Linked DNA regions of Homo sapiens. The protein of the gene in region 3 interacts with the protein of the main gene of each other region in a biochemical or structural test. Each region holds a gene or a part of one and is shown on either strand. Other genes may lie near its edges.

What was found.
Region 1: the proteins of SPRR2A (region 3) and PEX13 form a complex in vitro, tested with the Homo sapiens proteins (one study listed by BioGRID).
Region 2: the proteins of SPRR2A (region 3) and CTTN form a complex in vitro, tested with the Homo sapiens proteins (one study listed by BioGRID and IntAct).

Annotation. Positions count from the first base shown.
Region 1 is NC_000002.12:61,019,679-61,028,115, forward strand, and holds part of PEX13 (peroxisome biogenesis factor 13), read left to right. Parts: intron 1-8,437. UniProt on the Homo sapiens protein: Component of the PEX13-PEX14 docking complex, a translocon channel that specifically mediates the import of peroxisomal cargo proteins bound to PEX5 receptor.
Region 2 is NC_000011.10:70,414,994-70,423,430, forward strand, and holds part of CTTN (src substrate cortactin), read left to right. Parts: intron 1-669; coding exon 670-724; intron 725-2,019; coding exon 2,020-2,130; intron 2,131-4,752; coding exon 4,753-4,863; intron 4,864-5,406; coding exon 5,407-5,517; intron 5,518-6,476; coding exon 6,477-6,587; intron 6,588-7,515; coding exon of another isoform or gene 7,516-7,559; exon of another isoform or gene 7,560-7,946; coding exon 7,947-8,002; intron 8,003-8,437.
Region 3 is NC_000001.11:153,054,931-153,062,565, forward strand, and holds SPRR2A (small proline-rich protein 2A), read right to left. Parts: upstream 2,583-7,635; 5' UTR 2,541-2,582; intron 1,825-2,540; 5' UTR 1,806-1,824; coding exon 1,587-1,805; 3' UTR 1,190-1,586; downstream 1-1,189. UniProt on the Homo sapiens protein: Gut bactericidal protein that selectively kills Gram-positive bacteria by binding to negatively charged lipids on bacterial membranes, leading to bacterial membrane permeabilization and disruption.

The DNA.
Region 1 (8,437 bases), on a different chromosome or scaffold from region 3:
ATCAAGGTTTCCTAAATATGTAGTTCTGTTTTGGGCATTTTCTGACTTTCTACTAGCACCACACTATCTTAATTACAGAATTTTATAAGTCTTGATATGTAGTATGTCAAGAGTTTCCACACATTGCTGTTCTTTGTAATTGCGCTCTTTACACTTAGTCCTTTATAAAAAGACTTACTGGGATTTTTATTGGAACTGAGCTGAATTTATGGATCAAGTAAGTTTTTATTCCATGAATATTGTATAAGCTACAATTGGTGGGAATTTATCTTTTTGCCTTAAATATCTTATAATTATCCACTTTGGGAGACTGGGCGGGCAGATCACGAGGTCAGGAGATCGAGACCATCCTGGCTAACTCGGAGAAACCCCGTCTCTACTAAAAATACAAAAAAACATTAGCTGGGTGCGGTGGCGGGCACCTGTAGTCCCAGCTAATCAGGAGGCTGAGGCAGGAGAATGGCGTGAACCCACGAGGCGGAGCTTGCAGTGAGCCAAGATCACGCCACTGCACTGCAGCCTGGGCAACAGAGGGAGACTCCATCTCAAACAACAACAACAACAAAAAACTTATAATTACCTCCATGAAATTTTTTTCCATATTTTATTTTTTATTCCTAGATTATTTTTGCTGTAGTAGTTGCAAATGGGCTTTCTTTTTTCCTTTTACATTTTCCAGTTGGTTATTAACTGGTATGGCAGAATGCTATTGATTTTTTTTAATGTAAATATTATGTACAGCATAATCTCAAACTCTTAATTAGTTCTGATGGTTTGGTTGAAATTCTCTTTAGTTTTGTGTAGCCAGTTCTGTCATTTACAGATAAGCTAGCATCCTTGTATTGGTCCTGACTTCCACTGGAGTGCTTCTGAAGTTTTACTGTTAAATGTGAAGTTTGCTTTTTGTTTTTGATAGATATCTTGTCAAAATTCTCTCTCTCTACCTTGCTCAGATTTATTTTATTTTATTTTTATTTCATTTTTATTTTTGTTTGAGATGGAGTCTCACTGTGTCTCCCAGGCTGGAGTGCAGAGACGCAATCTTGGCTCATGGCAACCTCTACCTCCTGGGTTCAAGTGATTCTCCTGCCTCAGTCTCCCGGACAGTTGAGACTACAGGCGCGTGCCACTCCGCCCAGCTAATTTTTGTATTTTTAATAGAGATGGGGTTTCACTATGTTGGCCAGGCTGGTCTTGAACTCCTGACCTCAGGTGATCTGCCCACCTAGGCCTCCCAAAGTGCTGAGATTACAGGTGTGAGTCACTATGCCCAGCCCTTACCTTGCTCAGATTTTTATTGTGAAGAAATATTAAATTTTATGAATGGCTTTTCTGCATCTGTTGAGACCATTGTATGTATTTTCGCTTTAGTATGAAAATGTGGGAATAGGAACAGCTCTGGTCTGCAGCTCCCAGCGTGATTGACGCACAGGACGGGTGATTTCTGTGTTTCCAACTGAGGTACCTGGTTCATCTCACTGGGACTGGTTGAACACTGGTCGCACCCCATGGAGGGTGAGCCAAATCGAGGCGGGGCATCACCTCACCCAGGAAGCGCAAGGGATTGGGGGATTTCCCTTTCCTAACCAAGGGATGCCGTGACAGACTATACCTGGAAAAATGGGACACTTCTGCCCAAATAGTGGGCTTTTTCCACAGTCTTAGCAACAAGCAGACCAGGAGATTCTCTCCCATGCCTGGCTTGACGGATCCTATACCCATGGAGCCTTGCTCAGTGCTAGCACAGCAGTCTGAGATCAATCTGCGAGGCAGCAGCCTGGCAGGGGGAGGGGAATCCACCATTGCTGAGGCTTGAGTAGGTAAACAGAGCGCCCAGGAAGCTTGAACTGGGAGGAGCCCACTGCAGCTCAGCAAGGCCTACTGCCTCCATAGACTTCAGCTCTGTGGGCAGGGCATAGCTGAGCAAAAGGCAGCAGAAACTTCTGTGGACTTAAACGTCCCTGTCTGATAGCTCTGAAGAGAGCAGTGGTTCTCCCAGCATGGTGTTTGAGCTCTGAGAACGGACAGACGGCCTCCTCAAGTGGGTCCCTGACCCCCGTGTAGCCTGACTGGGAAACACCTCCCAGTAGGGGCTGACAGACACCTCAAACAGGCAGGTGTCCCTCTGGGACAAAGCTTCCAGAGGAAGGATCAGGCAGCAATATTTGCTGTTCTGTAGCCTCTGCTGGTGATACCCAGGCAAACAGGGTCTGCAGTGGACCTCCAGCAAACTCCAACAGACCTGCAGCTGAGGGACGTGACCATTAGAAGGAAAACTAGTAGACAGAAAGGAATAGCTTCAACATCAACAAAAAGGACATCCACACCAAAACCCCATTTGTAGGTTACCAACATCAAAGACCAAAGGTAGATAAAACCACAAAGATGGGGAGAAACCAGAGCAGAAAAGCTGAAAATTCTAAAAATCAGAGCACCTCATCTCCTCCAAAGGATCGCAGCTCCTTGCCAGCAACGGAACAAAGCTGGACAGAGAATGACTTTGACGAGTTGACAGAAGTAGGCTTCAGAAGGTCGGCAATAACAAACTTCTCCGAGCTAAAGGAGCATGTTCTAACCCGTCGCAAAGAAGCTAAAAACCTTGAAAAAAGGTTAGATGAATGGCTTACTAGAATAAACAGTGTAGAGAAGACCTTAAATGACCTGATGGAGCTGAAAACCATGGCACAAGAACTTCGTGATGCACGCACAAGCTTCAATAGCTGATTCAATCAAGTGGAAAAAAGGATATCAGTAATTGAAGATCAAATTGATGAAATAAAGTGAGAAGACAAGATTAGAGAAAATGTTTATTGTATCAACCTTCTATTGTTGAACCATCCTTGCATTTCTCAATGAACTTTGATTAGTCTTGATTTTTTTCTGATATGCAATTCCAAATTCTATTCTAAACCAGTTGGAGTGGTTCACATTTGTAATCCTAGCATTTTGGAAGGCCAGGGCAGGAGGATTGCTTGAGGCCAGAAGTTCAAGACTAGTCTGAGCAACATAACAAGACTCTGTCTATAAAAAATTTTAAAATTGGCCAGGTGTAGTGGTGTGTGCCTGTAGTCCTAGCCACTAGGGAGGCTGAGGTGGGAGGATCCCTTTGAGTCCAGGAGTTCAAGGCTGCAGTGAGCTGTCATCATACCACTGCACTCCAGCCTGGGTGACATAGCAAGACCCTGTCTCCAAAAAGAAAAAGAACTCTATTCTAATATTGTGAGACTGTTGCATACATGTTCCTAGGTGAAATTGAATTTTTTTTCTTTGTACTATTCTGGTTTTGTATCAAAGTTTTATAGCTAGATAGGTTTTTCTGTTGAGTCTAATTTCCTTTTTTTTTTCAGACAGTGTCTCACTCTGCCACCCGGGCTGGAGTGCAGTGGTGCAGTCATGGCTCACTGCAGCTTCTACATCCTGGGATTAAGTGGTCCTCCTGCCTCAGCCTCCTGAGTAGCTGGGACTACAGGTGCATGCCACCATGCCCAACTAATTTTTATATTTTTAGTAGAGATGGAGTTTTGCCTTGTTTCCCAGGCTGGTCTCGAACTCCTGGGCTCAAGCAATCCTCTCACCTCAGCCTCCCAAAATGCTGGGATTACAGGCATGAGCCATCTCACCTGGCCTAATTCATTTCTTTATAGGCAGACTGCCTTCTCCTTAGTAGCCTTGATACGTTTGGTCCTCTAGCTTTATTATATTGTAACCAGGTAGGAATATACAGACACACACACACACACACACACACACATATTTTTTTTTTCTTCCTGCTTAGTATCCACAGTATTCAGTCTGAGGATTCATTTCTTTTTTTAATTCAGGAAAATGCTCATCAATTATACCTTTAAATATTATTTTAAGTTTTGTTTGAACACTAGTCTTTACTGTCTCTTCTTCTGTCAAGCATTATATCGGGACTAGTGTCTGCTATAAGTAACATTATCTGACTCACTGTGATTTGGACTATTAAGACATTTATTGTTTAGTTAGCAAGAAGTCTAGAGATCTGCCTTCTCAACATTGTCATCAAGGGACCTAAGTTTTTCCTGACTTCTTTTTTTTTTTTTTTTGTCAGCTCTCTTGACTTTTTGGCCATCTCTGTCTTTTGTTTTGTTTGTTTGTTTGTTTGTTTGTTTTGAAATAAGTTTCACTCTGTCACCAGGCTGGAGTGTGGTGACGCAATCACACCTCACTGCAGCTTCCATCTCCCAGGGCTCAAGCAGTCCTCCCACCTCAGCCTCCCGAGTGGCTGGGACCACAGGTAAGTGCCACAACGCCCAGCTAATTTTTGTATTTTTTGTAGAGATGGGTTTTTACCATGTTGCCAAGGCCGATCTTAAATTCCTGGGCTCAAGTGATCTTCCCACCTAGGTCTCCCAAAGTGCTGGGATTACAGGCATGAGCCACCACTCCCTCACCATCTCTGTCTTATTCTTTGCTCCTTTAAAAAGAATCTTACCCCACCCCTGATCTGGTTGCTTTCAATATTTTTTCTCTGTTTTAGTTTTCAGCAGTTTGCTTTGTTAGGCCTCAGTGTGGTCTTCTTTGTATTATCCTGGGTGGAATTCACAGGGATACTTGAATCTGACTTTGATGCCTCTTATTAATTCCAGAAAACTTTAAGCCATTATTTCTTTAAATATGGTTTCTATCTATTGTCACTTTACTCCTTTAACTCAACTTGCATATATACCCCATATGTCACTATACTCCCTGTATCTTACTCTCTTTTCTGTATTTATCCTTCTGTTTCTTATGCTTCATTCTGGGTATTTTCTTCCCATCTCTTTCCTAGTTCACTGATATTTTTCTTTCACTGTGTCTAATCTGGTATTAAACCAGTCATTGAGGCCGGGTGCAGTGGCTCATGCCTGTAATCCCAGCACTTTGGGAGGCCGAGGCGCGTGGATCACGAGGTCAGGAGATCGAGACCATCCTGGCTAACATGGTGAAGCCCCGTCTCTACTGAAAATACAAAAAATTAGCTGGGCGTGGTGGTGGGCGCCTGTAGTCCCAGCTACTCAGGAGGCTGAGGCCGGAGAATGGTATGAACCCAGGAGGCTGAGCTTGCAGTGAGCCGAGATCACGCCACTGCAGTCCAGCCTGGGCAACAGAGTGAGACTCCATCTAAGAACAAAAACAAAAACAAAAAAAACAGTCATTGAGTTCATAATTTCAGGTTTGGTTTGGTGTTGTTTTTAGTTGTAGAATCTTCATTTGGTCCTGCTTTATATTATAGTTCCTATTTTCTTTTGGAAAATCCCAATCTTGCCTTTTTTATTTGAATATATTCAACACAGTTGTTTAAAGTTTCTGCCTAATAAGTCTATAATAACTCTATTATCTAGATCCCCTTTGGAGCTCTTTGTATTATCTGAAGTTTCTTTTTTTGTTTGTTTGTTTTGTTTTTGAGACAGTCTCACTCTGTTGCCCAGGCTGGAGTGCAGTGGCGTGATCTCGGCTCATTGCAACCTCTGCCACCCAGGTTCAAGCAATTCTCCTGCCTGAGCCTCCCCCGTAGCTGGGATTACAGGCACCTGCCACTGCACCCAGCTAATTTTTTATAGTTTTTAATAGAGACGGGGTTTCACCATCTTGGCCAGGCTGGTCTTGAACTCCTGACCTCATGATCCACCCATAATTTTGTTATGTAAGCCCTATCATTATTATTATTATTATCATTATTATTATTATTATTAAGACAGAGTCTTGCTCTGTTGCCCAGGCTGGAGTGCAGTGGTACAATCTCGGCTCACTACAACCCCTGTCACCCAGGTTCGAGTGATTCTTGTGCTTCAGCCACCTGAGTAGCTGGGATTACAGGCATTCGCCACCACACCTGGCTAATTTTTGTATTTTTAGTAGAGACAGGGTTTCGCCATGCTGGACAGGCTGGTCTCAAACTCTTGGATTCAAGTGACCCACCTGCCTCAGCCTCCCAAAGTGCTGGGATTATAGGAGTGAGCCACCATGCCCAGCCAAGCCCGTTTATTTTTTAATGAGAGCTGCACATTGTATATAGACAGTTTAATGTGATTTGAGGCCTAAGGATATCTTTCTCTAAAGACTTTTCCTTTTGACCAGAATGTTAGGCCACTAACAATCTAGAATCACTTTAATCCAATAAAGGATTGAGCTGATTTAAAACTTGGTTTTCATTCCTGCCAGGTAGTCCATTTCCTGTTAACCTTTTCACCCTTTCTACTAGCATATTTCCCTTTTTAAGGTCCCAATCTGAAGTGTGAGGGTTCCCTATGGCTTTCCTCTTTAGGGTTCTGAACTCCAGTTTATGGCTCCTTAGCCCAGGGAGTCTTAAAATCTCTGCCCAGCTTCTCATCCTGTCAACCATCTCTTCTGGAATTGGCCCTGGTTTCTAGAGAAACGCCTGAAAAGATCTGGCTCTCTGGGTTTTTTTTTTCCTCCTTGATTTTGTCTCCAGAATTCTTCGGTGCCTCGTTCTCTAATGCTTTAAACAGAATTCCTTCCTATTTCCTTCCCTTCTAGTTCATTGGGAGGGTTAATCTAATTACCTCGACAACCATTACTTAAAATAGAATTCCCAAGTTCTGTATTTCCATTCTGCTCCTTAGTGTACAGCAGCTAATTTTCTTCTTGACCGGTAGTTGAAAAACGGTTCCAGTGGCTGTGGCCACCTTTTCTTTTTTCTTTTTTTTTTTTTTTTTTGAGACGGAGTCTCACTCTGTCGCCCAGGCCGGAGTGCAGTGGTGCTATCTCGGCTCACCTCAACCTCTGTCCGCTTCCCAGGTTCAAGCAATTCTCTGCCTCAGCCACCCGAGGAGCTGAGATTACAGGCGCCCACCACCACGCGTGGCTAATTTTTGTATTTTTAGTAGAGACAGTATTTCACCATCTTGGCCAGGCTGGTCTTGAACTCCTGACATTGTGATCCACCCACCTCAGCCTCCCAAAGTGCTGGGATTGCAGACATGAGCCACCACGCCTGGCCTGTGGCCACCTTTTCTAAGATTTCTAATGGAATTTTTAAAATATTTAAATGTTTTTATTTAATTTCAATTTTTATTTCACAGATATTATTTCATTTCTCTCTCTGATAATTTTTAACATATCTAAAATCATTCCTGAGCTGTTATATAAAATTAGTTTTTTTAAATTGGGTTTTATACTTGCTGATTTTTGTTGGCTTTGTTTCTTAGTGTTTTTATTTCTTCATGTGTGTGGCATTTTTGAGATGGTCATTTTGAGTAGTAATTTTGGAGTTCTGTTTTCTCTCCTTTCCCTCTTCCATGTTCCCCTCTCTCTATCTAATAGGTGTCCTGTTGCCTCTCCCTGTTCCCTCTACCTACCACTTAGGTAAGAATCAGGTGTAAAAACAGTGGGTCAGACTGGGCATGGTGGCTCACACCTGTAATCTTAGCTCTTTGGGAGGCCAAGGCAGGAGGATTGCTTGAGCCCAGGAGTTGGAAACCAGCCTCTCAAGATGTAGCGAGAACCCATTTCTACAAAAAATATCAAAAAGAAAAAAAAAAAAAAAGGCAGGCATGGTGGTGCACGCCTGTAGTCCCAGCTACTTGGGAAGCTGAGGTGGGAGGGATCGCTTGAGCCTAGGAGTTTGAGGTTGCAGTGAGCCGTGATTGCACCACTGAACTCCAGCTTGGGTGACAGAGTGAGACTCTGTCTCAAAAAAAAAAAAAACAAAACACACACACACACACAAAAACAGCGAGTTAGATTAAGGATATCACACATCAAGTCGGTCAGTTGTTTCATTTCCTGGGCTGGAGGCCTTATCACAGTCCTCTCCCTCTCTTAGTTCTGTAACTTTCTCAAAATATTAAACTGTCATCAGCAAATTTTATAATCTCTTTGTAGGAGTCAAGGTGGCACATCCTCATTCCCAGCCTCAAGCATTGAACTGGTTCCATTTTAATGGAGCACTTTTCGTTTTTGTTACTTCATTGAAGCCTGCATCTTGGCTGTCACTGCCTGATTACAGAACCAGAATTGAGTAGGCCCGTAGCTTCAGCCCTCCTTACCATTTTACATTTCTGTTTAGTTTCTCTTCCATAAGTCTGTCTTGTGTTAAATCTAGATAATGTCTGTTTGTTTGTCTCTCTGTTTTCTCTATTATTGCTTATACTTGGGAGCAGAACTGTTTCATTAAAGCCTGAATGCACTGCACTATCTGGCCGTTCACTGGCTCCTTTTAAGTTTTGTTCCATTTTTAAATATCAGATCCAATAAAAGAAAAAAAAATAGAGTTCTAGTAGCTTGTTTATAATATTACGATACAAGTCTAAATTAAAACTTTAGCCTGGATTAGAAAATTACCATTTTGCAGTTCCACATCTAATATTTGTTTCAGGCAAGGATGATGAATCGATGCTAAACTATCAAATGAACAGTTGCTGAGGAATAGAATATTTGTGGTACAAAACTGTCATCCCATAGATTATAT
Region 2 (8,437 bases), on a different chromosome or scaffold from region 3:
CGGGGGGGCAGGATGCGCTCGTGTCCAGGACCCAGGCTTTGCGTCCAGGTGTTGTTGCAGTCATCCTAGGCCCGAGCCTCTTTGATTCTCTTCGGCTCGGGTCTGTTGGCTCTTTTGTTTAATAGAGGAGCGATCAGGAGCCTGGAGGGAGCAGGGAGCTGATGCTGGTCGCAGATTGTGGCTTTGTGACATATTAGCCACGGTTCTGAATTTATGTGTCTGTGAAAGGAGGATGATCATACCTATCTCACGGGTGTTTGCTCAGATGCCCATCGCAGTGCCTGGCTGGTGGGAGTGCACCCCTGGTGGCCACTGCTATTCTCATTACTAATACTAATGTTCTCAGCATGACTTATTTGAGAAGCGAGTTTTTGTGAAGCCCGTGGAATGAATCAGCTGAGCATTCCCTGCTGCCGCATGCTGGGGAGGGCAGGTCACCAGGGATATGGCTTGGCCTGCGCCGCCCACTGGGCCTTGCAGTGGGCCTGTCCGTTTAGGATGCCAGAGCTCTTGCGTCACTGCCACCTGCACCTGGCTTAGGAACCCAGAGGTCACAGCATCATGTGTTTCATATTTTTTTAAATGTCATGTCATGAATTCAGAGAGATTGTTTCAGGGACATTGGAAAGTATTTCTCCCCACTTTTTCATGTGTTTTTGGTCGTCACAGTCTGCTGTAGGCTTTGAATACCAGGGGAAGACTGAGAAGCATGCCTCCCAGAAAGGTAAGACGCGAAAGGTGCAGAAAGAGCCCGCTCCGGGGGCCCCGATGGGGAGAGTCACAGCCACCTGAAGCCGTTTCCCCGCGCTCCGGGGGCCCTGATGGGGAGAGTCACAGCCACCTGAAGCCGTTTCCTGAGCGGTGGCTGTTGCCACAAGGAGGACTCTGCCCTCCTCTTCATGTTTCTGGATCATCTGGATACCACATGATGGATGTATTCCCCGTTACACATCCCCCTCGGAGCCCTGGCATCTGCTGTCATTGTGGGGCTTCTCCCCCTTGTAGCGGAAGCCGCCTTCCCTTCATCTGGGCAGCGCTCCTCCTGGAAAAGAGAGCTCACAGATTGATCGGCAGAAAGCTAACTTCCCCCCAAGGCTAGAAACCAGAGTTGTTAAATTCTTGTTTTCCTTATACACATACGGTCTTAACTGCTGGTGATTAATCTTGATTACATCATGCAGTCTCTTTTTTGAAAGACCAAAGCATATCGCCACCTTAAAGTTCTCAGTTTATTTTTTGCAAGCTTATTTAGTTCTTCCTCCTTTGTGTCATTGCATCATCCGCGGAACAAGCTCTCAGTCCTTACGCAGTCTCGGTGCAGTCTAGGTGGAGGTAGCTGTGGTGTGGGCAGGCGGAGGATCAGGGTCTTGTCTCCCATGTTCAGCTGCATGGCTTTCTTCATATGAGGCTTTCTCTTTCCATTTTTTTCATTTTGTTTTGTTTGTTTGTTTGTTTTGAGACAGAGTCTCGCTCTGTTGCCCAGGCTGGAGTGCAGTGGCACGATCTCGGCTCACTGCAACCTGCGCCTCCTGGGTTCAAACGATTCTCCTGCCTCAGCCTCCCAAGTAGCTGGGATTACAGGTGTGTGCCACTACCCCTGGCTAGTTTTTCTATTTTTTAGTAAAGATGGGGTTTTGCCACGTTGGCCAGGCTGGTCTCAAACTCCTGGCCTCAAGTGATCCGCCCACCTCAGCCTCCAAAGTGCTGGTTCTTTGTATGAAGCTTTCCAGCTTTTACCTGAGCAGTTGATTTTCAAAGTGGGCATGCAGCGTCATTTCTGACTACACAAAGGAACTGCCCTGTAACAGCTGACAGGGCCCAGAACCCCCCCATGCACCTGTTGTGAAACAGGGTCCAGCGTCACCTGTATGGAGCAGTGGGTGGCTTGTTGTACATTTTAAAATGTGCGCTTGATGTGTTTGTGAGTTGTAACCCCTACACACTTTTGCTTAGTTTAACAAAAGGAACAGTGTAGTTCGTCCTCAGGCCCCCGTGCTAATTGCTGCCCTGTCTCTCCAGACTACTCCAGTGGTTTTGGCGGCAAGTATGGCGTGCAGGCCGACCGAGTAGACAAGAGCGCGGTGGGCTTCGACTACCAGGGCAAGACGGAGAAGCACGAGTCACAGAGAGGTGGGGCGGACCCCACGGTCTGTAATCACGCGTTTGCTCCAGAAACACCCACGAGGGCATTTTCTCTCTGCACACGTGATTGTTGTAGATTTTTTAACTGAAAATGTTTGGTGTTCTTTTCGTACCAGTGTATGTGGGCTTTTCCTAATTCGAATGGCTGCACAGTTCCCCATCGTATGAGGATTCCATAGTCCATGTAACCATTCCTTTTTTGAATGTGGAATTTAGGTTATTTATTTATTTATTTATTTATTTTTGGTAGAGATGAGGTCTTGCCGTGTTGCCCGGACTGGTCTTGATCTCCGTGGTCTCAAGCAATCCTCCCCCACCTTGGTTTCCTTAAGTGCTGGGATTACAGGTGTGACCTGTAAATTTTTTTTTTTTTTCTTTTAGACGGAGTCTCGCTCCGTTGCCCAGGCTGGAGTGTAGTGGCGTGATCTCTGCTCACTGCAACCTCCACCTCCCTGGTTCAAGCAATTCTCGTGCTTCAGCCTCCCGGCTAGCCGGGATTACAAGCACACGCCACCACGCCCAGCTAATTTTTGTATTTTTAGTAGAGACGGAGTTCTGCCATGTTGCCCAGGCTGGTCTTGAATTCCTGACCTCAGGTGATCGCCCTGCCTTGGCCTCCCAAAGTGCTGGGATTACAGGTGTGAGCCACTGCGCCCAGCTGAAACTTGACTGCAGGGAACATTCTTGTACCTGTGTTTTGTTCACAAGTGATTATTCAAAAGAATCAACTCCTAGACATGGAATTGCTGGGTCGAAGGCTATTGAATGTAAAATTTCCATAGATACTGCCAAGTTGTCCTTGGAGGCTGTGCTGAGTTCTTCCTTCCCCACTGCATAGCCTGTACACCATCACTCAGAGCGTTTCCCAGGGCTGCAGAGGCTGTGGCCTGCCTGTTTCCCTGTGCCTCTTGTTTGGCCTGCACATTTAAATTTTTAAAAATATTTGCCAACATTTGAAAAGTGAGAGCTTGACTATTTAAAAACTCAAAAAAAAAAAAAATTACCCCAAAGCAAGAAACACCACTGGAAGATCCGACCATGCTGGCTTGGCATTTCCCTGAGGAAAGTGCCGGTGGCCTGGAGGGCAGCTTGGCTTGTAGTTTGTCGCGGCCTGGCCTGGCCTTGCCTTCCTGCCGGTCAGGCCTTGCCTGCCGCACAGAGCTGCTTGCCTCTGCTCTCTGCCTCTTTCCTGGGAACAGTCCATTCCTCCTCTTCCCGACACCACACAGTTGTGAGCAGCGCATGCTCCGCGAAGCTGCATGAGTGTGTGACTCCAGGGAGCCAGGGAGCACAGGCCGAGCACCTGGGCAGACGCAAGGCTCCTTGGATGCTTCAGGCCTTCTCTCCCAGGCCTTGATCCTCTGCCTTGTGCTGTTAGTGGGTCCATGAGAGAGTCATGTTTTGGTGTCACAGTGACATGCTAAATGGCTTCATTCTGAGTAGAACTGAAGTTTCTGGAGGATGCTGTGTGTGTCCTATTTCCTGGCATCCCCCTGCGTGCTTCAGTTTGTGAAGAGTGGCCTTTGAAAGCCTTGCCCTTCTGCTGCCTCCTGAGCTTAGAGCCTTATCATAAACTCTCATCTCCTGCTAGCTTCTGGATGCAATGGATGATGTTACAGGAATTCATCTGCTGTACTTTATTTCTTTTTTTTTTTTTTTTGAGACGGAGTCTCTCTCTCTCGCCAGGCTGGAGTGCAGTGGTGCGATCTCAGCTCAGTGCAACCTCCTCCTTCCGGGTTCAAACAATTCTCCTGCCTCAGTCTCCTGAGTAGCCGGGATTACAGGCATGCACCACCAAGCCCAGCTAATTTTTGTATTTTTAGTAGAGGCGGGGTTTCACCATGTTGCCCAGGATGGTCTTGATCTCTTGACCTCATGATCCGCCCACCTTGGCCTCCCAAAGTGCTGGGATTACAGGTGTGAGCCACTGTGTCCAGCCTCTGCTGTACTTTAAAAAAAAAAACTTTTTTTCTTAATTCTTTTTTTTTTTTTGAGATGGAGTTTCACTCTTGTTGCTCAGGCTGGAGTGCAGTGGCGCAATCTCGGCTCACTGCAACCTTCACCTCCTGGGTTCCAGTGATTCTTCTGCCTCAGCCTCCCGAGTAGCTGGGATTACAGGTGTGGGCCACCACGCCCAGCTAATTTTGTATTTTTAGTAGAGATGGGGTTTCATAATGTTGGTCAGGCTGGACTTAAACCCCTGACCTCAGGTGATCCACCCACCTCGACCTCCCAAAGTGCTGTGATTACAGGCGTGAGCCCCCTCCCCCAGCCTGTTTTTTGAATTTTTAAAATATTAGCTAATGATTTAACTTAGAGATGGGGTCTTGCTATGTTGCTCAGGCTGGACTCCGCCTCCTGGGCTCAAGTGATCCTCCCTTCTCAGCCTCCTGAGTAGCTGGGCTGCAGGCACACACCCCCACCTCTGGTTACCACTGTTTGTGTTTCTGTTATTACACATAAATAGCACCTTTAAATACTGTCTGTATTATTCAGTGGTCCTACAGTGGACCTGAAAGATTTTTGTTTTTTTAATCAAAGGATAAAATACTTGCATGTTCACTGATTTCGTTGCTCCTTTTAAAGTAGTCCTTTTTTGTTTGTTTTTAGATTACTCCAAAGGTTTCGGCGGCAAATACGGTATCGACAAGGACAAAGTGGATAAGAGCGCCGTTGGCTTTGAGTATCAAGGCAAAACGGAGAAGCACGAGTCCCAGAAAGGTGTCTTCCGTTTTATCTTACCCTCCAGCCAGCAGCTAGTAATGTGACAGGTGGTAGCCACACCGGAAAAGGAAAAACAAAGCGTTATTGATAGCCCTTAACGTAGATGTCTCTTTTTCATGAAATGCCCAACTTGAAAACGGCACATCCAGAAACACAGCTGCTAAATAGGAACTCGCAGCTTGAGTGTTATGGCGCTCCAGCCCCAGCGGCGTTGCTTATCGTGGTGGCCACACCCCGCACGTCTGTGTTGCCCGTGTGAGCCTGTGCTGTCTCATGGTGCGGGTGGAAGCCGCATGCGTGGGAGCTTCCATGGGGTCCTGTCTGGCTTAGTCACGATGCTGAGGTCATAGACTAGGTTATTTCCTGCCACTCTCCAAGGAGGGCCTCTTCATGGATGTTATCTAAAGTATTACCAAAGATCCGGAAGGGAAGAGTAGATTGAGTGAATCATATGCGTTTAACTGTATTGAAAACATACTTTCCACCTGTGACCTGCACTACCTGTTAATGATGGGTTCTGGCCTTTCATTGTGCATGTAGACTATGTGAAAGGGTTTGGAGGAAAATTTGGTGTGCAGACAGACAGACAAGACAAATGTGCCCTTGGCTGGGATCACCAGGAGAAATTGCAGCTGCATGAATCCCAAAAAGGTACATTCACTCTGCCTGTATGCGAGATGGTTTTAGAAGTTTGTTTTTGTTCCTTGCGGGGTCAGTTGGTATGTGTTGTGTCTGCGTGTGCCTGCTGCACATTGTTTTGTCTTCACTGTTTGAAGTTGTCCTGTGTGCCCCCCCAATCCCCCAGTTCCCTCCAGCTAGTGTAGTCACAAACCCTCCCTGCTGACACGGGGTGGTACCCCAGAGAGCTGGGTTTACCTGGAAGTGGGTTGCACGGGCCAAGCCTGCAGCAGGGGGCTGGGTTTACCCAGGAGTGGGGACATGGGTCAAGCCTGCAGCGGGGGGCTGGGTTTACCCGGGAGTGGGGGCATGTGTCAGGCCTGCAGCGGGGGGCTGGGTTTACCCGGGAGTGGGGACATGGGCCAAGCCTGCAGTGCTCCTCATCCAGGCTTCTTGTCTATAAAGTGGGCCACGGTTTTTGGCAGGAGATACTTACTTTTGAACCGAAAGTGTTTTCTTGTTGGAATGGGTGCCCCTTCCCTGGAAAAAGGAGCCTGAGGGGGCTGAAAGCCTCTCAGTGTGACCCAGCCCTGAGAGAAGCAGGAGCGGGGCTAATGGGGCTGCAGCGCCCTCCGAATCTGCAGGGTCTCTCCTCCCGTGTACACAGATACGCACACTCGTCTGCAGTGTGCGTAGGACGCTAAGAATGAACTGCACAGCCGGGAGTGCCTTTACTGAATTATTTGAAGTACAGTTCTTAGGCTGTTCCAGATCTTCGCTGAATGTTCAGATTTTAAGTTCATTCTTTAACGTTGACCTCTGGAGCCACCTTCTGGCGCTGAGCCTGGGAGTAGGATCTCAAAGGCCCTAAGCTCAGGAGAGCCCTTGCTTTCTGGAAACTGTGTTTGATTTTTGCGCATGCTCATGCAATTCTAACCCAACTGTGTTTCCTCTTTTGGTTGTTTTCCCCACCGTTGCTTGTGGATTTTCAGATTATAAGACTGGTTTTGGAGGCAAATTCGGTGTTCAGTCGGAGAGGCAGGACTCCGCTGCTGTGGGGTTTGATTACAAGGAGAAGCTGGCCAAGCACGAGTCCCAGCAAGGCACAGTTGCCACCAGCCTCCTACCCTCCCCCCGACCCTCCTGTGCGGCCACTTCTAGCACAGACTTCAGGGCTCACCGTCAGCACCTGCAACACAGTCCTCCTGTGTCACCACTTGTCAGCTGTCAGGCTGTTCGGCACTTTAAACCCATTTCTAGTAGAGCGACACTGATTTTGAGTGGTTCACTTTCTTCCCTGTGAACTTGTGATCTGTGTATGGCAGGATGCGCCAGTTAGTGTGTGGGTGCCATCTTTCTAACCCGGTGACCCATCCAGTCTCTGGACTGGGGCATCTCCGGTCTCCAGCAGCATTCTGCCCGAGGCTGTTCTGCTGTTATTGGTGACTGCCGTGAGCCACTGAGTCAGGCCTTCCAGATGAGGAGAGAGGTGTTGGTTCAACCAAACCACTGGCCATTTGACCAGGGGCTTCGTAGCAGCAAGGGCCAGGAGACAGGCGTGTTCTGTGTGGTTTCTGTGTTTCATTTGTGGTGGTGTTTTTGGCCGGGGTTGGGAGGTTTTTTGTTTGTTCTGTTTGATGACACCATATGTGTGTAACATCTCCACACAGAGCCACACAGTATGTACGTGAAGCCAGCTCTGCATCCTTCCTTAGAGCAGTTATGTTGTTACCTTCAAAATTTGGACTTGGTTATTAGAACCTGAACACATAATTGGAAAAACAGTAATTCCCTAACCTTGCAGGGAAGACTCTAGGCTTTCCACCTGCAGCGTTAGAAACACACAGCAGTGTTCAGGTGTGGGCAGGTAGACACACCTGGGGTGGTCCCGCAGACTGCATGGAGATGGCAGTGGCTCTCCGTGGCATCACTGCTGCATGACAGTGTGACTTTCATGTGGATCTGTGTTGCTGCAACGGAAGTCTTTGGCTGGTAGAATTTCCACATGGATTTTTTTTTTCTCTTAAAAAGCAAGAGAACAAACTGCGATTGAGCCTCTTTTTAGCGCTCAGTAGAGCAGGCGCACAGGAAGCAGATGAGAATAAGCCCGTGCTGGTGCGGAAGACTGTGCTATTGAAGTGGCGCGTTGCAAAGGCCTGTCCGTGCCCTCTTTCCTCGCTTAGCTCCTGCCTGCTGCCCGCCGCCCCTCCTGCCCCTCCTGCCCCTCAGGGAATGCTGAAGCCTCTGCCCCTGGCCTGTGCTCTGCTTCTCACTGCCTGTGTCTCACGACCATGGGTGGAAGCAAAACTTGCCTTGCAAGTGAAGCCTCGCTTGGCCATTCTCGTTTCTTCCCGCTGTGGTGCACCTTCTTGGGCTGTTTCTGGATCTGTCTGCATGCACCCACGGCCACCCCCATGCTCGCCTCCACCTCAGAGTAAGTGTTGTGTTTTGCCACGTTTCAGACTACTCCAAAGGATTCGGCGGGAAGTATGGGGTGCAGAAGGATCGGATGGATAAGGTAAATATTCCAGCCCCGGAGCTTAGTGTCTTCTGCCTGCAGGGGCTCTTGGTGGGCGTGGCTCACCGTGCTGGCCAACATCCACGCGCTGGGGTGGGGCACAAGTGATTTCCGTCGTGGTGGTGGTGGTGGTGGCGATGACTGACTCGGACAGTCTTGTGCTCCTCATGGCCGTGCTGTGGGATAGGCGCTGGCACCGGCCCACCTCCTAACTGGGGGCCCCAGGCCAGGCAGGCTCAGCACCTGGCTGCAGCCATAGGAACCCAGATGTTTAACATGAGAGGTGAGAGCCTCGAGGGCTCATGTCCATTTGAACTTAAATTCTTAATAGTAAATCAGATTGGAACCTGAGTGTGTTAGACTGCGTGTGGGGCTACCTCGCTGGCAGCCAGCGCTGCGTGTGCGGTGATGAGCCATGTCTCCCGTCTTCAGCCT
Region 3 (7,635 bases):
GAACTACTATTCAATCCAGCAATCCAGCTGCTGTGTATCTATCCAAAGGAAATCAGTACGCAAAAAGGATGCCTGAACTCCCACGGTTATTGCAGTACTGTTCACAACAGAAAAGATGTGTAAGCTAAGTGTCCATTAATGAATGAATGAATAAAGAAAATATGTATATACACACAATGAAATACTAGTCCATTGTAATAAAATGAATGAAATCCTGTCATTGGCAGCAACACAGATGGAACTGGAGGTCATTATGTTAAGTAAAATAAATCAAGCAGAGAAAGACAAATATTGCATGTTCTCACTCATATGTAGGAGCTACAAATGATGATCTATAAAGGTAGAGAGTAGAATGAGAGATACCAGAGGCAAGGAAGGGTGTTCAGGGGGATGGGGAATGAAGAAATACTGGTTAACGAGTAAAAACATATGGATACATAAAATGAGTAAGTTTTAATATTTGATAGCAGAGGAAGGTGACTACGGTATACAACAATGTACTGTGTTCTTCAAAATAGCTAGAATTAAAATGTTCCCAATAAAGAACAATGATAAATGCTGCAGGGGATGAATGCCCTAAATTTCCTGATATCCTGACTTGATCATTACACATTCTATTCATGTAAAAAATCACATGTATGCAGTAAATGTGTACAAGTATTATGAATCAATACAAATAACATTAGAGAGTCTTCTTATTTCCTATGTTAGTTACACCCAAGCCACTCTCTTGCTGGAACAAATATGGTAGTGGTTGTAGTGGGGAGTGATGATGATGAGGAGGAGGAGGAGGAGGATGGTGATGGTGAAAACAATGATAATATGTTGCTGCGAATACAACTCTATCAAATGACAGCTAATTACGTGTCAGGCATTGTGCCAACCAAATATCAGATAGTAATCAAATTTTATGCCTTAGACTAGTTTGTAATGTAAATGTTATTTTGCTCACTTTGCAGTAAAGAGAAGTTGTCAATTCAGAGAAGTTGAATAATATCCTCCTCAAATCAATCAAATGCTAATTAGGGAAAATAAAAGGGGTTTAAAATGATACAGAAATAATCTTTGGTATGACTCCAATTGTGAGATCCTGCTGTGAATCAAAGAAAGATTGAAATAAATCCAAAAGATTACATACTATTGCTAATAAAGCAGATTTGAAAATAAACAAAAGATCCATTCACAAATATATATGCATAGATACTTTATTCAGGGAGTGAAAGATAAGTGACAATTGCAAAGGTGGTAGAAGCTCGTGACCAGGTGACAGACAGACACAGAACACATCAACAGAATTCTCTGATGGTTCCCAGGGAGAGAGCTGCTGCTCTTTCTTCCGAAGCTCTGGGAGCTGGCACAGCCCAGGACTTCCTTTGCTCAGTCTCCACCTGGACAGTGGCAGTATGGCAGCCTCAGAAAAGAAACTTTTTGCTGTCAGGGATCATCATGGGCAGATTACTGGCTAAGGAGAAAGAAGCTCCCTGTGTATCCATGGTAGGCTTTGATGAGAAGATGAAGGTGGAGCTGTGGAACGAGGTGAGCCAAATATCCTTATCCTTTCTTGGTCCTGATGAATTCTGAAGCTGTTACTTGCTCTTCGGTGGATACTTTGACTGGCAGGGTGGGGAAGGTGTCACAGGAGGATATTTCTGCTGGCACTGCTGAGGTGGGCAGGGCTGTGGACACTTTGGTGGTGGGCAGGGCTCAGGGCACTTCGGGGGTGGACATGGCTCTGGGCACTTTGGCGTGGGGCACACAGGAGGTGGCTGGCAGGGCTGCTTGCACTGCTGCTGTTGATAAGACATCCTGCTGGAGTCTCAGGATCTGAAAGAAATGATACAACAGTGTTCGTGGGAAGGGAATCCTCCAGAGAGAGAAGCCAAAGCTTGTGTAATACCATGGCATATTATTTCTCCAATCTCCAAGAAATTATTTAAATTCTTAATTACCTTTTCAAGACTTTCTGGTTTCTCCCTTCCACTTTAACAAATTGCTTCATTGTCCCTAGGAAATCCTGTGTTTTCTCATACAATTTTTCCAAATAAATTATCTCTGTTATAAAGAATCAAGCATCTTATTTCCCTGAAAATAACCAATTCAAGAAAGGCAGTCACAAGTTCAGACACCCTGGGCAATCTAATATGCTATTCCTATCATCATTATCTGTTATAAAGTCCAAGTGGGCTGACTTGGGCATAGAGCAAAGGGCTGCTCAGGGAGAATTGTAGTCTTTCACACCTGCTAAGACACAAACCTTTGTAAAGGACACTAGAAAGACAGAGAATAAAGAAAAATACTTTGTTCTTTTTTCTTCTTCATATCAAAGGTTACCCCTTAACTTCTCTGTCCATATGGATACCTACCTGTATAACAAAAGAAAGCTAAAATAGCATATAATTGTGCTCTAATCTTAAATTTTCATCCACTAAGTAGCATCAAGTCAATTTTCATAGGATTGGATCCACCAAACTTGCCATATTCAGATTAAACTCAACATTTCAGGGCACAAAGAACAGAGGAACTCAAGGAAGCCGACTCACCAGGTTCTCCAAGGCAGATCAGTGCTCAGGTACCAGGGGTTTAAGAGTCGTGCAGCAGAGGATCTCTTTATAGAGCCTGCTACCCCACCCAGCAGGAAGTGAAACTACCCAAAACAATGCTGATCCAGTAATTTCTTAAGCCAGATGCAAATTTATCCATGACTGGCATGAGCAGGATACTCAAAATAGGAAATATCCTGTTCTGAAATCTCTCCTCTGGGTTAAGCTCTCCTGACTCACAGAAGCCATGCCTTGGATCTCAGTTTCAGTGACTTATGGCAAAGAGGGACTTGGGGGAATCTCTAACTGATGGTCAAGGGATCTCTTTCTTAATTGGGAACAAAGATATTTTCCTGTCTTACACCTTCCCTAAATCATAAAACTTCTGCCCTCATTCACTTTACCTGAATGCCTTATTGTTGTACATGAACTCAACTGTACCTCTACTTTCCTCATGCAATTTGCCAATGTGCTAGGAGGAAGGGGAGACCTAACAAAGGCCTGAGTTCTAGCTCAAGCCTTTTCTTTGCTCTGTTGTATGACCACAGGCAAGTCACTTCTCCTCCACGGAACTGTAAACAGGGAGAATAATACTTACCCCTGAGTTTGCAGGCATTGACCGCATTGTGCCACCTGATGACCCTGTTCGAGCTTGAAATTTTTTCTTCTACCTCTTTCTTTCTCTCATAAAACCCCAGATTTTACCTGTATTATCTTCCTCTTTAAAACTGTCTTCTCTAATCCATTTGTAGAGGCATTTGTCTCCCAGGATAGATTCCAAAGTGAGATCGAGTCTCCCTAGCACGTTTTCTACTTGCTGCCCTTAGGGATGTGTACTATAACTTTTTATTTATAAAAATGTACTCTTGGACACCACCTTAAGGAAGTAGAGAGAATGGAACCAAAGTTGCAAGCATTCACTCAAAATCTATGTATTGAAACTTGCCTATGTTCAATACATTTTACATACATTTTTAGTATAATTTGAATATTTTAAATATTACATAATCTCCCAAAACATTCTGTAGTGTCCTGTGAATATCCTATAGAGAACAAGCTGCATAGACTCATGTTATCATATGTAAATAATTAGAAGTAGGTTTGCAGAGTGCAGAAGTTCAGAGCACTTAAAGTCTGAAATCTAGAGGAAAATAAAAGCTAAGTGTAATCCAATATGTATTCTTGCTCTCTATTTCCAAACAGGTTTTAGGTGTTTGAAAGACAGTGTTTTAAAATTTGTTTGTATGTTCTTCCTTTGTTTTTTCCGTAGACCCTCTAGTCCCACAGTCTGCTGGATTATCAACTCACACCCCAATGTACACCTCTCATCTGTCCATTTTGGTACATATTGTTCACTTAACACATATGTTGTCAATGCATTTAGTGATTGTTCTTTCACATCTTTTTTAAGCTCTTTTACAATCATAAGGTTTTCTAAATATTGTATATTAAGCATTTAAAGTGATATTGCTAGAGCTTCCTTATCTGGACCATTAATCAGGAAGCTTTCCAAGAATGTGGTTTTGTAAGTAGATAAGAAGAAAGGGGAATGAGGAAGAGGAAAGACAAAATCATCAGAGCAGTCACCAGCTATGCTCCAGGAAGAACATGTGTTGAATGAACCCAGCATCACATCCCTCAGTTAAGCAGGTTAGGTACCCAGAACTGCTATTTCTCCTGTCAGTAAGGAAGGGCTTTTGGCTAAGATCATCACTGGCCAGGACACTACAGAAATAGAGCCAACATATCAGAACCTTGAGGCCAGGTGTTTACAAATGGTGTTCTCACCAAGTGTTTCCTATAGACTATTACACATGTCAAGCACTTCACTGGGCAAAGTAAAGGGCCTTTACTCAATAGGTCCCCTACTACTCCCCAACAGCCTCACATCACATCTAAAACACAAATCCTTAAAGAAATATCTGATTTGTGCCATGCAAAATTGAAGAATTTGCTGCCAGATGAGATCACTGTGTGAGATAACACAGTCTGAGTCACACCCTGCGACACCCCTTCTGAGAACACCGCATTCCAACAGGAGGCTTATCACACCAGTGCAGGCACTAGAATGGCAGCAGCCCTAGTGCCCCCCGCATCTCAGACAGGCTCACTTTACAAGTTGAGGTGGTGAACTTGAAACTCAGAGTTCCACACAGAGCAGCCACATGAGGAACGGCCACAATATGAAGAGGGGCAGCTAACAGTCACAGCTTCCCCAAGTTAGGACATCCAGGCCTTGATACATGGAGCGAGGCATACTTCACACATGCACACACACACACACATACACACGCACTCCATGGGTCTTTATTTATCTATCATCTATCTTCATGTCTAAAGAGCTTAGCTTTATGTTTCTTAACAGTCTGATAGCCTTAGATTCATTCCTATTATTTCTACTTCCTAATTTTGTAAGGGATCATTAAGTACGAATTATTAGTTCATAAAAATGACAGGAAAGAACAAAAACTTTTATTTGGTGTAATATTTGATTCAACATTTTATCTCACATTTTACTATGATACATTCTGCTATACAAAATAGTGCTGGCAAGTGAAGATTTAAAATAAAATATGAAAAAACAAAGAAACAGGAATTGTTGCAAAATATTCTTGATATGTTAAGAGAAATGGTAACTACCAGTCCCCATGCATATCTGCCTTCTGCTTTTATTTCTGAATAGCAGGCTTAGTCTCCATTGTCCTTCCATAATTCGATGAATTAGATAAACATATGGTAGAATTCTGAAAGTAATTAAGAAGAATGTTTTGGGAGATTATGTAATATTATTTAAAATATTCAAATTATACTAAAAAATGTATGTAAAGCATGATAACATTTTCATTAAAAGATGGGAAACATAAAACAACATACTAAATGTGATTATATATGGCTGGTATAATTACAGATGATGTTTATGTTCTTATTTAACTTTTCAAAGTATGCTTCAAATGTTACCTATTATTGAGTAAGGAATCTTAAAATTCTACTTTGAAAAGCTAACAAGAGACAAGCCTGTCCATTGCTCAGTTAGTGAGATAGTGGGTTTTTTGGGTTTTTTTTAAGCATTATTGGCTAGACACTAAAGGTGGGGCAGGATGTAAGTAGCAGTAGTTTTATTGTAATAGCTCTACATTTGATCACATCCCTTCTAAAATCTCTCTCGAAGAAAACTCCAATAATAATCCCCCTTCCTCAGAGTATTGACATATACACACAGATGTTTACAAATGGTGTTCTCTCCAAATGTGAGAATCGTAGTAACCACAGACACCCAATAGCTGTATGTGTCTGTGAAATCATTCACCAAAATTGGGAGATCATTCTAGGATAACAAAATCAGGAATGAGTTTGTCTACTATCCAAGAGCCAGGTGGATAGAAAGCATAAATTGGCCATAATATGATGAAATTGGAAGAGATGGATGATTAGCAGGACAGGTAGTAAGGATAGTAGAACGTGGTGATAATAATAGTAACTACCACTAAATTGTCATGAGAAAACAATTAAATCAGAGACTGCATATAAATACTTAGCACAGGCTACAGATAGTGCTCAAAATGCTAAAGTAACACATTGTTAATGAAAGAAATAGAGACAAAATATCAATTTCAAGTTGTTTATGGTTAAGAAAGATACTTGCTTTCTCTTTAAGATCTTTTATATTATCCTTATTTTAACTGTGTGCCAGAAGTTTTTAGGACAAAGCAAATGCAAATATATTATTTGAATGAAGTGGGCAGAAATAATAAGATGGGCTGATCCTGACGTTTATTCTTATGTGATAAAAATGAGAGTTAATCTAAGCAGAAATTTAGATCAGTTCCTAGTTGTTCGTACTCTCTAAGACTTTCCTCTGAATTCAGTTAATACAAGAAAATAAATCTAAATACAGTAAATAGCAATATGTGGATGTGTTCATTTGTAAAATATTAACATACATAGATATTTAGCATTCCATGTGAAAATATATATAATGTTACCTCCAATTTAGTTTACTGTTATGTGGTTAGCTGTTTAGGACATTAATAAAAAACACTCATTCAAATATCACATTTCTTCTGGTGGCAAATTACCTAAATTTTAGGCTAAATCCTTATAAGAAACTGAATAGCTCATTAGCACTAACCTTCCCAAAGTGAATAGACCTTATAGATTCTACTGTTATTTTCTCTATATGTTAGATCAGAATATTTAAGAGCATAATTTCAAGAGCTATTAGTAATGTAAAGTACTCCTGTTGCTTAATGTTAATGAGATTAAGAAGGACATATGGTAAATGATAGAATGAATCAGACACTTCTCCTCATAAGAATCTTTTCAAGATAGTGAATGTGCATAGGCTGTGGTTTCCTTCCAAAAAAAGTCAAAAAGGAAAATAAGGAAACACGAACAAAATTGTGAAAAATTTTGAAGAGGAAAAAAACTGTTTGAAATCTAATATGGGGAGAGCTGAAATTCTACTGTAAGTTAGAAATATATGAAATAAAACATAAACATTATTAGAACAATCAAAACTAACAGTCTTACAGAGATAAACACAATTTTACAATATGATCCAGCAAATTTTGATCTAGTACATTTCAAAATATTTCAACAAAAAATAACCTGCATTCAAATGATTGCAGCAGCTTTATTCATAAATTCCAAGAAGCGTGATCTACCAAGATGCCCTTCAATAAATGAATCGATAAACCACGGTGGATTATACCCATGCAGTGGAACACTATGCAGTGATAACATGGAATGATCTATCAAGAAATACAAAGATATGAATGAATTTTAAATGCAAACTGGTAAGTTTAAAAAAAGTCAGTCTCAAAGGCTACACACTGTTTCTAAAATGGTTCCATTTATATGATTTCTGTAAAATGCAAAATTACACATCCAAAAAGCACAACAAACTCCAAGTTCAATGAATTCAATGACACCCACACTGAGACACATTATAATTAAATTATCAAAAGAGAGAATCTTGAAAGCAGGAAGAAGGAAGTAAATCATCATATCTAAGGGATCCTTAATAAGTAGTTGACCAAATTCTTATCAGAAGTAGTTTTCTGAATAAGTAATTTTCAATATATCATCCTACTGC